Homo sapiens: one gene and its partners. The protein of the gene in region 3 purifies or fractionates together with the protein of the main gene of each other region. This does not show direct contact. Each region holds a gene or a part of one and is shown on either strand. Other genes may lie near its edges.

Region 1 (3,654 bases), on a different chromosome or scaffold from region 3:
ACTCTAATTTTGAGATGATTGTGGTTTTCTAGGACTGGCACCTGGGAGGTAAATGTGATGTCTACTTATGGGGTGCTGGTAGGCATGGACAGCTGGCAGAAGCTGGAAGAAATGTAATGGTACCTGCAGCAGCTCCCTCATTCTCACAGGCCCAACAGGTAACTAACAGGATAAAAAATAGAAAAGAAACATGGGAACTGAAAATTCTAATTCTTTTGCTTGTCTTATTGTGGGATAAAGCTTGTCCATTTCATAATCTATTATGAGGAATCATTAAAGAAAGTCATGATATATAGCTTTCAAATAAAAACTTGGTGTGGTTTTTATCAGACTTAAGAAGTTAACAAATTTCTAAATTTTTCTTTCAAGTTTAATGAACTAACATCATGATGTGTTAGGCCTGCCCAGTATGTATTTCTAGCAGTTTAGATACTCCTAATTAGTGATTTTCTCTTTGGGGCTAAAAACTTCCTAGGATCTTTAGCCAGATTTTATCGACCACTCCCCTTTTCTAATAATCCTGGTACGATATAGCGCCAAACCCTTCTCGAGGCCTCTGCTTTCTCTTTTGCTCTTCTTTACCTCAGCTAGTCCAGATTGCATGACTCATTCTTATGTACGAGTTTCTGCTTCTTTCTAGCCCAGTCTTTAATGTTTCCCCATCACCCCTTCCTTTTTCTTTCATCCATTTTGTTGTTCTAAACTATTTTAAATGGATGAATCTCATACATCTCTTGGTTAAATAAGCAGTTTTATAGTCATCAAGGAGTTACGGGACTGCATAGTTATATCAACTCTTCCCTTTCAGTAAAAGGATAAAACAATTATAAAAGCATTCTATGTATACGTGGAATCATTTCAAGTGCTTGCATGTTAAAGCAATATAATAAAGAATAAAATATTTAATTCTGTGTTTTTATACTAGGTCATTTGTGGTCAGAATTGTACCTTTGTCATCCAGGCCAATGGCACAGTGTTGGCTTGTGGGGAAGGAAGTTATGGCAGATTAGGACAAGGAAATTCAGATGACCTTCATGTGCTGACAGTTATTTCAGCCTTACAAGGTAAAATTGTCCTTAATAAAAAGATGGTTAGAACCTAAGGCCTAATGTAGGTTTGGTCGTACAAACCTTTGCCCTTCTCAAACCTTTGCTAGATAAAATCATATCAGGTTTTCACTTACATTTAAATCCTTATTTAGGCATGTGTGCAGCCTTAATTTCCATATTTTAAGCTATATTGCAGGTTACTTATAGCAATGCTAGAATTCAGTGAAATATAAATAACACTTTTTGAGACCCACTGAAGATTGTAAACAAATGCTTAAAAATTGCAAAAGTGTAAGTAGGCAGATGTTAATAGCAGTAGCAATCATGCATGTATTTCATTAAAATTAAAAATCAGTTTATATGGAAATCTGCAAATGTGCTAAAGACTTTAAAGGACATCTTCATCAGAGTTCTTTGTGACTTGGAGAGAGAACACCTTTGGAGAAACCACTGTACAAGCCCCCGGCTTGCTCATTAACTGAACTCATAATGACTCTGAAGCCTACAAAGAGAGCACCGACGGTTTTTTTAGGTAAAAGCATACAAGTAACTATGAGTTCAAAACAAGTTCCTAGAAGCTCAGGTTCTTTTCATTGTGATCTGAGTGTGAAGAGCACAGCAGTAAAGATGAGAATGTGTGCTGGGTTCCTATGGGTTCTACTGGTCCTTGGCTCTGGGACATTGCACAAGCTTCGAGACCTCTTTGTGACTCAGTTTTCCCACTTGTAAAAATGGGATGTTAGTATCTGTTTCATAGGTGCTATGTGAAAGTAGAAAATGAGATAATCCATGTAAAGCATTTATAGGAGTGGCTAGAGCATAGCCAGTCATTAATGACTGTAACTATTGCTGTCATCCTCGTTTTCCTTGTCATCACCATTATTTTAGGTGACTATTCGCAGTTTTGCTAGGTTATGGCTACAAATTCAATTTAAAACTAAAGAAATTAGGCCGGTTACTGTGGCTCATGCCTGTAAACCCAGCGCTTTGGGAGGCCGAGGTGGGCGGATCACTTGAGGTCAGGAGTTCATGACCAGCCTGGCCAGCATGGTAAAACCCTGTCTCTGTTAAAAATACAAAAATTAGCCAGATATGGTGGCACATGCCTGTAATCCCAGCTACTCAGGAGGCTGAGGCAAGAGAATCACTTGAACCGGGGAGGTGGAGGTTGCAGTGAGCCGAGATCACACCACTGCACTCCAGCCTGGATGACAGAGTGAGACTCCATCTAAAAAAAAAAAAAAAACTAATGAAATTATTCTTATTTTCATAGTACCAATTCGGTGGTTTTTGATTGAGGGTATTCAGTAGCAGCTGCAAGTAAAGAGGAGAGTTTTAACATCCAGTGACTCCTGTTGGGTTTCTGTTCTGTTCCAGGCTTTGTGGTGACCCAGCTGGTGACTTCCTGTGGTTCTGATGGGCACTCTATGGCCCTAACTGAAAGTGGTGAGGTCTTTAGCTGGGGAGATGGTGACTATGGTAAACTTGGCCATGGGAACAGCGACAGGCAGCGGCGGCCCAGGCAGATCGAGGCCTTACAAGGAGAAGAAGTGGTGCAGGTCAGGCAGGAAATGGATAAGTTTGCCTTTCATTGTAAATATACTAGTTGTTGAATAGGTTTCTTAAAATTAGGTAACAGAAAATATAGTAAAAATATATTACACAGTAATTATAAGAGATCCATTGGTTTTGGATGTTCAGATTCATTCTTGAGCTTGTCAGAAGTTTGAATAGGCTTTGGTGTTAGTATTGGTCTTGTTAGTATTGGTTAGAATGGTCTTTTTCGTGAGCCAGCTGGTTGGCCCAGACTAGGGTGCTGCACGCCCTTGGAAGGAATATTGTGTGGTTTAACTTCTGCCACACAGTTCTTAATACACAGATAAAAGGAAAACTTTGCTTTTAACCTATCATTTATGTTACAAAAGCTAAGTTAACATGCATTTTCTGGAAAATAGTGTTCTAAAATCATATTGTAAGATTGTATAGCACCTTATAGTTTACAAACAATTTCCCCATTTATTATCTCATTTAGTCTAGGTCATGTGTACACAGCTGAAGAGTAGCAGTAGTTACTCCAGGGTATGCTGTTCAGCTTGGGCTTCCTGAGGCTGTTGAGACAGATCAGACTTGGGAGAGCAGGAGAGCAACTTGGGCAGATAAATGTACCAGTTGGCCAGATGCAGTGGCTTATGCCTGTAATCCTAACACTTTGGGAGGCCAAGGCAAGAGGATTGCTTGAGGCCAGGAGTTTGAGACCAGCCTAGACAACATAGCAAGACCCTGTCTCTACAAAAAATAGAAATAAATAGCCAGGTGTGGTAGCACATGCCTGTAGTCCCAGCTACTTGGGAGGCTGAGGTGGGAGGATTGCTTGAGCCCAGGAGTTTGGGGCTGCAGTGAGCTGTGATCACACCACTGCACTCCAGCCTAGGTGACAGAGCAAGACACTGTCTCTTTAAAATTTAAAAAAAAATTAAAAAAAAAAATTTTTAAAAGCATTGGTCTTTGAAGATCCAGTTTTCAGTGAAGTTTATGTAAAGTTTATTGCTATATTAATACCAAAAATGGCAGATTTACTTTTTTCTTAGTTTCCCTTCTTAAAAAT
Region 2 (3,654 bases), on a different chromosome or scaffold from region 3:
CAAATAGTAAAACATTATCAGTCTAGCACTGAATTCTGCAATTTGGGTTAACTTGATTATAAGGCCAAAATTCACATAAACTTAGAGCTGCTAGTATTTGTTGTTTATAGATGTAGTCCACAGATTATGACACAAGGTTCTGAAAAGCCAGTTGTCCTCAAACTACCTTTCTAAAGAAATAACATTGTACATTGTAGTTAAGCTTCCCAAACTAACCTACTCAGGCATATTTATTATAATAATGTAACTAAAATACAATGATGATCATGAGTTGGGAAGAAGAGAGCCATATACTATGCAGTTTCCTCCTATAAGGAGGAAGATAACTCTTATCCCTTTCTTCCCTAAATGAGGCCCCAGCAAAATACAAAGTTTTTTTTTTTTTTGAGACGGAGTCTCGCTCTGTCGCCCAGGCTGGAGTGCAGTGGCGGGATCTCGGCTCACTGCAAGCTCCACCTCCCGGGTTCACGCCATTCTCCTGCCTCAGCCTCCCAAGTAGCTGGGACTACAGGCGCCCGCCACTACGCCCGGCTAATTTTTTGTAGCAAAATACAAAGTTTTAAGTGCTGCTCTTTATATTTCTCTATTCCATCTCACGTTCCCGTATTTCCTGCCCCTCAGAAAAAAAATCACTTCCTGGCTCAACCACCCAGGATTGCTTTACTATCCCCCAAGGAGTTACATGCTCTAAATAAACTATATCCTGAACCCTTCAAGATAGCAATCAAAACTGCCCTTATTACAATATGGCATTATTTCAGCTTAGGTTAGGAAAAAAAGTACTGCACCTACATAAAATCGTATTAATATATAAATGACAGAATCTTAATCTATCCAGAGTTGTTTTAATTAAAAAAAAAAAAAAAACTATTACTAAAGCAAACAAACCTCTACCTTTGTTACATAGCCTAACGTGACTATATTTAAGGTGAAAAAATTGCAGTGCATGTGTGAAGGTGTTTTTGAAGAAAGGAAAAACCACAAGGCAAGACTAATTTGGACATCTACATCTCTCTCATTCCTTCCAGCCCTTTTACCCGGCTACACAATGTTAGCTGTTCATTTTTTTCTAGGATTTTACACCTTATTGTAAGAACCTACTGACCATTTAACAGTTATCTGGCAGTAGATATCTAGTTTTAGTGAAGAATACTAATGCAAGAAAGGACAGAACATAAACACTGACTATAAAACAACAGTCCTATTTAATGTTGGGATAGTCTTTATAGGTCAGAAGTTTTTGGGCATCATTATATGTTATAACTGGATGATCAAAATGAGAACTTGAGTATTAAAAAAAGAGAGAGATTGGCCGGGCACAGTGGCTCACACCTGTAATCTTAGCACTTTGGGAGGCCGAGGTGGGCAGATCACCTAAGGTCAGGAGTTCGAGACCAGCGTGGCCAACATGGTGAAACCCCGTCTCTACTAAAAGTACAAAAATTAGCCGGGTATGGTGGCGGGCGCCTGTAATCCCAGCTACTCAGGAGGCTGAGGCAGGAGAATCGCTTGAATCTGGGAGGCAAAGGTGGCAGTGAGCCGAGATCGCACCACTGCACTCCAGCCTGGGCAACAGAGCGAAACTCTGTCTCAAAAAATCAAATCAAATCAAATCAAATCAAATCAAATCAAATCAAATCAAGAGATTAAATTACGTTCTGAACGGAACTGAGTAGAGATGATTCACTCAACTGAGCAGAGACGATTCACAGTCTAGGAAGTACCCACTGGTAAGACATTAAAGTAAGACCGTCTAAACACTATTATTTTCTTTGAATGATTTAAACCACTGGTTAACTCTGCACATTAGTTCTAATATTTTGCCATTAAAACAAAACCAAGCAGCAGGTAAAATTTCTTAACTTTCTGTTTTAATGAAAGAATGAAACATACATTCATAGTTATAGAAAAGCCTTAAATAACTTTCTAATAAATACATACAAAATTCCACCAGAATCTTGAAATAAAAGGTTTAAAGTTTGAGCAATGTCTCATTAATAGGATAATGTGAAGCCCCCTATCCACAAACTTCATAGCAATTTACTTACGGTGCTACTATAGCATTATTTTATAATAAGAGAGTAGTAAATTCTGTTTTTATCTGCCAATTTCATCTTGAGTTCCCTGTGGACAAAAACCATGTCTATATTTTTCTTATTAGCAACTCAGTGTCAGGCATATGGTATAGACTCAATGTTGCTTAAAAAAAATGATGTCATAACAGGAATTTGTTTCTGTACTAATAAGTAACGCTAATAAGGATGAAATCAAGGCTATAAGAAAATGGGTCTTTTATAGGTTGGTAAAATTGATGTTTGAATAATTTTGTAATTCTCTCTATGGCTGAAGCATGAAATAGCAATAAATTATTTCTCTTGGTGAATAGTTAAACCCCAAAAGTCTGAAAAGCTATACGAAGAAAACTAAAATAATCCCTCCCCTCAAAAAACATGATTCCAGGCACCGTGGCATGCACCTGTAATCCTACCTACTTGGGAAGTTGAGACAGGAGGATCACTTGAGCCCGAGAATTCTAGACTAGACTGGGCAATATAGCAAGACACTGACTCTAAACAAAACAAAACAATAACAAAAACATATCTTTTTCCCTACACTGAAAATCATATCCCTTGTTAAACTTCTTTATACTTCCAGAAAAGCTACGGAAAACACATAAGAGTAAATGCTGATATGATAGCAACTCATCTGTCCAGTATGCTCAAGAACAAAGAGCTCCGAATAAGGGAAATTCAGGAGTACATTAAATCACTCTCAAGAAAAAAATGTTTAAAATTGTTGTGATGAGAACTTTTTAAACTGTTAAATACTCTGAAACTTCTCAGTTCAGAACATATTTTAATCTTTTTTAAATATTCAAGTTCTTATTTTGATCATCAAATTATAACATCATGTAATGATACCCAAAAACCTTTTTTTGTTTGTTTTTTGTTTTTTTAAGATGGAGTTTCACTCTTGTCGCCCAGGCTGGAGTGCACTGGTGAAATCTCGGCTCACTGCAACATCTGCCTCCCGGACTCAAGCGATTCAACTGCCTCAGCTTCCCAAGTAGCTGGGATTACAAGTGCCTGCCACCATGCCCAGCTAATTTTTGTATTTTTAGTAGAGACAGGGTTTCACCATGTTGCCCAGGCTGATCTTGAACTCCTGACCTCAGGTGATCCACCCACCTCAGCCTCCCAAAGTGCTGGGATTACAGGCGTGAGCCACGGCACCCAGCCAATGCCCAAAAACTTCTGACCTGTAAAGACTACCCCACGTTAAACAGGGCTGTTGTTTTTATTTACTTTATTATTATTTTTGAGATAGGGTCTTGCTATGTCGCCCAGGCTGGGGTGCAGTGGCATAATCTCGGTTCACTGCAACCTCCACCTGCCGGATTCAAGCGATTCTCCTGCCTTGGCCTCCTGAGTAGCTGGGATTACAGGCGCGTGCCACCACAGCCCGGCTAATTTTTGTATTTTTAGTAGAGATAGGATTTCACCATATTGGCCAGGCTGCTCTCAAACTCCTGAGCCCAAGTGATCTGCCTGCCTCAGCCTCCCAAAGTGCTGGGATTACAGGCGTGAGCCACCACACCTGGCTAAATAGGGCTGTTGTTTGAGTCAGTATTTACGTTCTATCCTTTCTTGTAAA
Region 3 (3,654 bases):
ATGGTATTACATATATATTTGTTTTCATCTGCAGTTCCTGGCTCATAACTCCCATAGCCTTTGCTACAGTCTTCTGTTATAGTGTTGGGTACGGTAGGCCCCAGGGCAGAACTCAGGAAACAGAACCTCTCCAACCTTTTCCTGCCCTCCATTCACCTGCCTCAAGGCAGAACTCTAATCTCCCATCTTTCTGATTATAGGTCTTAAGACCTCCCGAGAGAGGGTCCTGCTTTATGTCTGGGGGAAAGAATGCTGACATAATAAGGTTTCTATAAAAATCTAAGAGGACTGCATTTAGAGAGCTTCCAGATGGCTGAACACATGGAGCTTCCTGGATGCTGGTCGCAGGGAGGGCAGAGAAGCTCCACACCCCTTCCCCCATACCTTGCCCTACAGGTCTCTTCATCTGTATCCTTTTCAATAGCCTTTATAATAAACTGGCAAATGTAAGTAAGTGTTTCTGTGAGTTCTGTGAGACAATCCAGAAACTTTATCGAGCCCAAAGAGGGGCCACAGAAACCACAAATGGAAGCTAGTTGGTCAGAAGTTCTAGAGGCCCAGACTCGTAACTGGTGGGAAATGGGGGAAGCCTTTGACACTGAGCCCTCAACCCGTGGGATCTGACACTATCTCCAGGTATAGTGTCAGAACTGAACTGTAGGAAACCCAGCTCTTGTCCGTTGCTTGATGTGTGGGAAAAAACTCCTATACCGTCGGTCACGGAAGTCTTATTCTGTCTTGACAGATTGTTGTGGTGGCGTGAGAGCAGAGGAAAAACATGGTTTGAGAGTTTTTCTTAAAACACTCTCAGATATCAAAATCTGTGGATGCCTGAGTTCCTTACTGCAGGCCTTCCATACCTGTGGTTTCTATATCTGCAGATTCAACTAACCATGGATTGAAAATACAGTCTGCCCTACGTATCCATGGGATCCATATGTGCAGATTCAATGACCTGTGGATTTCTGATCTGCAATTTTGTGGAATCTGTAGATGCAAAACCTCCAAATATGGAGGGAATAAGCTTAACAAGGACGGGAAAAATTTGTACACAGAAATCTACAAAAAATTGCTGAAACAAAGTAGAGAAGACACACACAAATGCAAAAACAGCCCATGTTTATGGATTGTAAGTCTTAAGGTTAAGATGTCAATAGCCAAAGAGATCTACAGATTCAGTGAACTCTTTAGCAAAATCCCAAGGAAGTTTTCTTCATAAATAAACTCATCCTAAAATTAATATGAAATCACACATGTGCCTCAATAGCAAAACAAACTTGAAAGAAAGAAAGCTGGAGGTGTTACACTGCATGATTACAAAACTTATTACTAAGCTACCTTCATCAAAATAGAACTGTACTGCCATGAAGGCAGACATATAAGCCAATGGACTAGAACAGACAGGCCAGAAACAAACCCTCAAATATTTGGTCAAATGATGTTCAATAAGGCTGCCAAGACCATGTAACGAGAGAGGACAGTCTCTTTATCAAATAGTGCTGAGGAAACTGGATATCCACAAGAAAGGAATGAAGTTGAACTCTTATTACACCGTATGCAAAAATTATCTGAAAGCCAATTCATGACCTAAAACTAAGACCTAAAACCATAAAACTCCTAGAAAAAATCAGGTGGAAAGCTTCATAACGTTGGATTCAATAATGCTTCCCTGGATAGAACACTGATAACACAAGAAAGAAGGTAAAAATACATAAAATGTACTACCACAAGACCTACAACTACTGTGGATGGAAGAAAACAATTACCAGAGTGAAAAGGAAACCTACCATATGTGAGAAAATATTTTCAAATCATACCTCTGATAAGATTTTATATATCTAAAATACATAAAACTCCTACAAATCAGAAAACCAGTAACCTGATTAACAAATAGAAAAAGGAGGCCAGGCGCAGTGGCTTACGCCTATAATCCCAGCACTTTTGGAGGCTGAGGTGGGTGGATCACGAGGTCAGGAGATCGAGACCATCCTGGTGAACATGGTAAAACCTCATCTCTACTAAAAACACAAAAATTAGCTGGGCATGGTGGCGCATGCCTGTAGTTGTAGCTACTCAGGAGGCTGAGGCAGGAGAATCGCTTGAACCCGGGAGGCAGAGGTTGCAGTGAGCCAAGATCGCGCCACCGCACTCCAGCCCGGCGACAGAGTGGGACTCCGTCTCAAAAAAAGAAAGCAAAAGAAGCATTCTTTGTTCCTAAAAAAATATGGAAATTTCTTTATATGCTACAAAATGGATGAACCTGAAAGACACTCTGGTAAGTGAAATAAGCCAGTCATACAAAGACAAAAAGACAAATAATGAAGTTATATCATGTAACTTCATTATATAATAAAGCTTCTATAAAAACCCAAAAGGACTGGGTTCAGAGAGCTTCTGGACAGCTGAACACCCCGAGGCTGACAGGAAGGTGAGCAGGAACTCACACACATGCCAGGAGGGTGGCACAAGCCAACTCCAGGACACAGAAGCTCCTGTGCTGGGGACCCTTCCAGACCTGACCCTATGTTCTTTCCATCTGTTAATTTATCCTTCTCTATCTATTTGGAATAAGGTCTTGCTCTGTGTCAGCCAGGCTGCAGTGCAGTGGCGCGATCATAGCTCACTGCAGCCTTAAACTCCTGGGCTCGAGCAGTCCTCTTGAGTAGCTGGGACTACAAGGTGTGTACTACCATGCCTGGCTAATTTTTTAAATTTTTTTTTTTTTTTTTTTTTTTTTTTGAGATGGAGGCTCGCTCTATCTCCCAGGCTGGAGTGCAGTGGCACCATCTCCGCTCACTGCAAGCTCCGCCTCCCGGGTTCAGGCCATTCTCCGGGCTCAGCCTCCCAAGTAGCTGGGACTACAGGCGTCTGCAACCACACCCGGCTAATTTTTTGTATTTTTAGTAAAGACGGGGTTTCACCATGTTAGCCAGGATGATCTCGATCTCCTGACCTCGTGATCCGCCCGCCTGGGCCTCCCAAAGTGCTGGGATTACAGGCGTGAGCCACTGCGCCCGGCCAATTTTTTAATTTTTTGTAGAGATAACGTCTCATTATGTTGCTGGTCTCAAACTCCTGGGATCAAGTAATGCGCCCACCTCAGCCTCCAAAAATTCTTGGGTTACAGATATGAGGTACCATGCCGGGCCTGGAGCCTTTAAAATACGCTGTGGAATAAACCCTGTAAATGTTAAGTATGTATTACCATGAGATCTGTGAACCACTCTAGCAAATTAATCAAACCCAAAGAGGGAGCCATGGGAACCCCAACTTTTGAAGCCAGTTGGTCGAAAGTTCCAGAGGCCTGGACTTATGACCCGTGTCTGAAAGGGGGCAGTATTGGAGACTGAGCCCTCAACCTGTGGCATGTGACACGCTCTCCAGGTACACAGCATCAGAATAGAATTCAAGGGCCCCCAGCAAGTAGCCACTGCAGAACTGATTGCTTATTGGTGGAAGTAAAACTCACATTTGGTGACATAAGTTGTCTGTGTTTATTGTTGCGTGGTGCAAGACCAGACAGAGGAAGATACGGTTTGAGTTTTGCCCCTCAGTCTTAAATAACAAATTACGGCAAGTCAGTGTAATGGTATTTCTGAGATTAAGATGGCAACAATTTTAAAACAGCATATTCTTAAGATATAAAAAATTTCC

The links.
Region 1: the proteins of ZNF610 (region 3) and HERC1 purify together in Homo sapiens (affinity purification with mass spectrometry; 2 studies listed by BioGRID and IntAct, with this or other methods). This does not show direct contact.
Region 2: the proteins of ZNF610 (region 3) and TRIM37 purify together in Homo sapiens (affinity purification with mass spectrometry; 2 studies listed by BioGRID and IntAct, with this or other methods). This does not show direct contact.

What each region holds. Positions count from the first base shown.
Region 1 is NC_000015.10:63,634,915-63,638,568, reverse strand, and holds part of HERC1 (probable E3 ubiquitin-protein ligase HERC1), read left to right. Parts: intron 1-32; coding exon 33-158; intron 159-925; coding exon 926-1,064; intron 1,065-2,426; coding exon 2,427-2,608; intron 2,609-3,654. UniProt on the Homo sapiens protein: Involved in membrane trafficking via some guanine nucleotide exchange factor (GEF) activity and its ability to bind clathrin. Acts as a GEF for Arf and Rab, by exchanging bound GDP for free GTP.
Region 2 is NC_000017.11:59,051,363-59,055,016, forward strand, and holds part of TRIM37 (E3 ubiquitin-protein ligase TRIM37), read right to left. Parts: intron 1-3,654. UniProt on the Homo sapiens protein: E3 ubiquitin-protein ligase required to prevent centriole reduplication. Probably acts by ubiquitinating positive regulators of centriole reduplication.
Region 3 is NC_000019.10:52,356,730-52,360,383, reverse strand, and holds part of ZNF610 (zinc finger protein 610), read right to left. Parts: intron 1-3,654. UniProt on the Homo sapiens protein: May be involved in transcriptional regulation.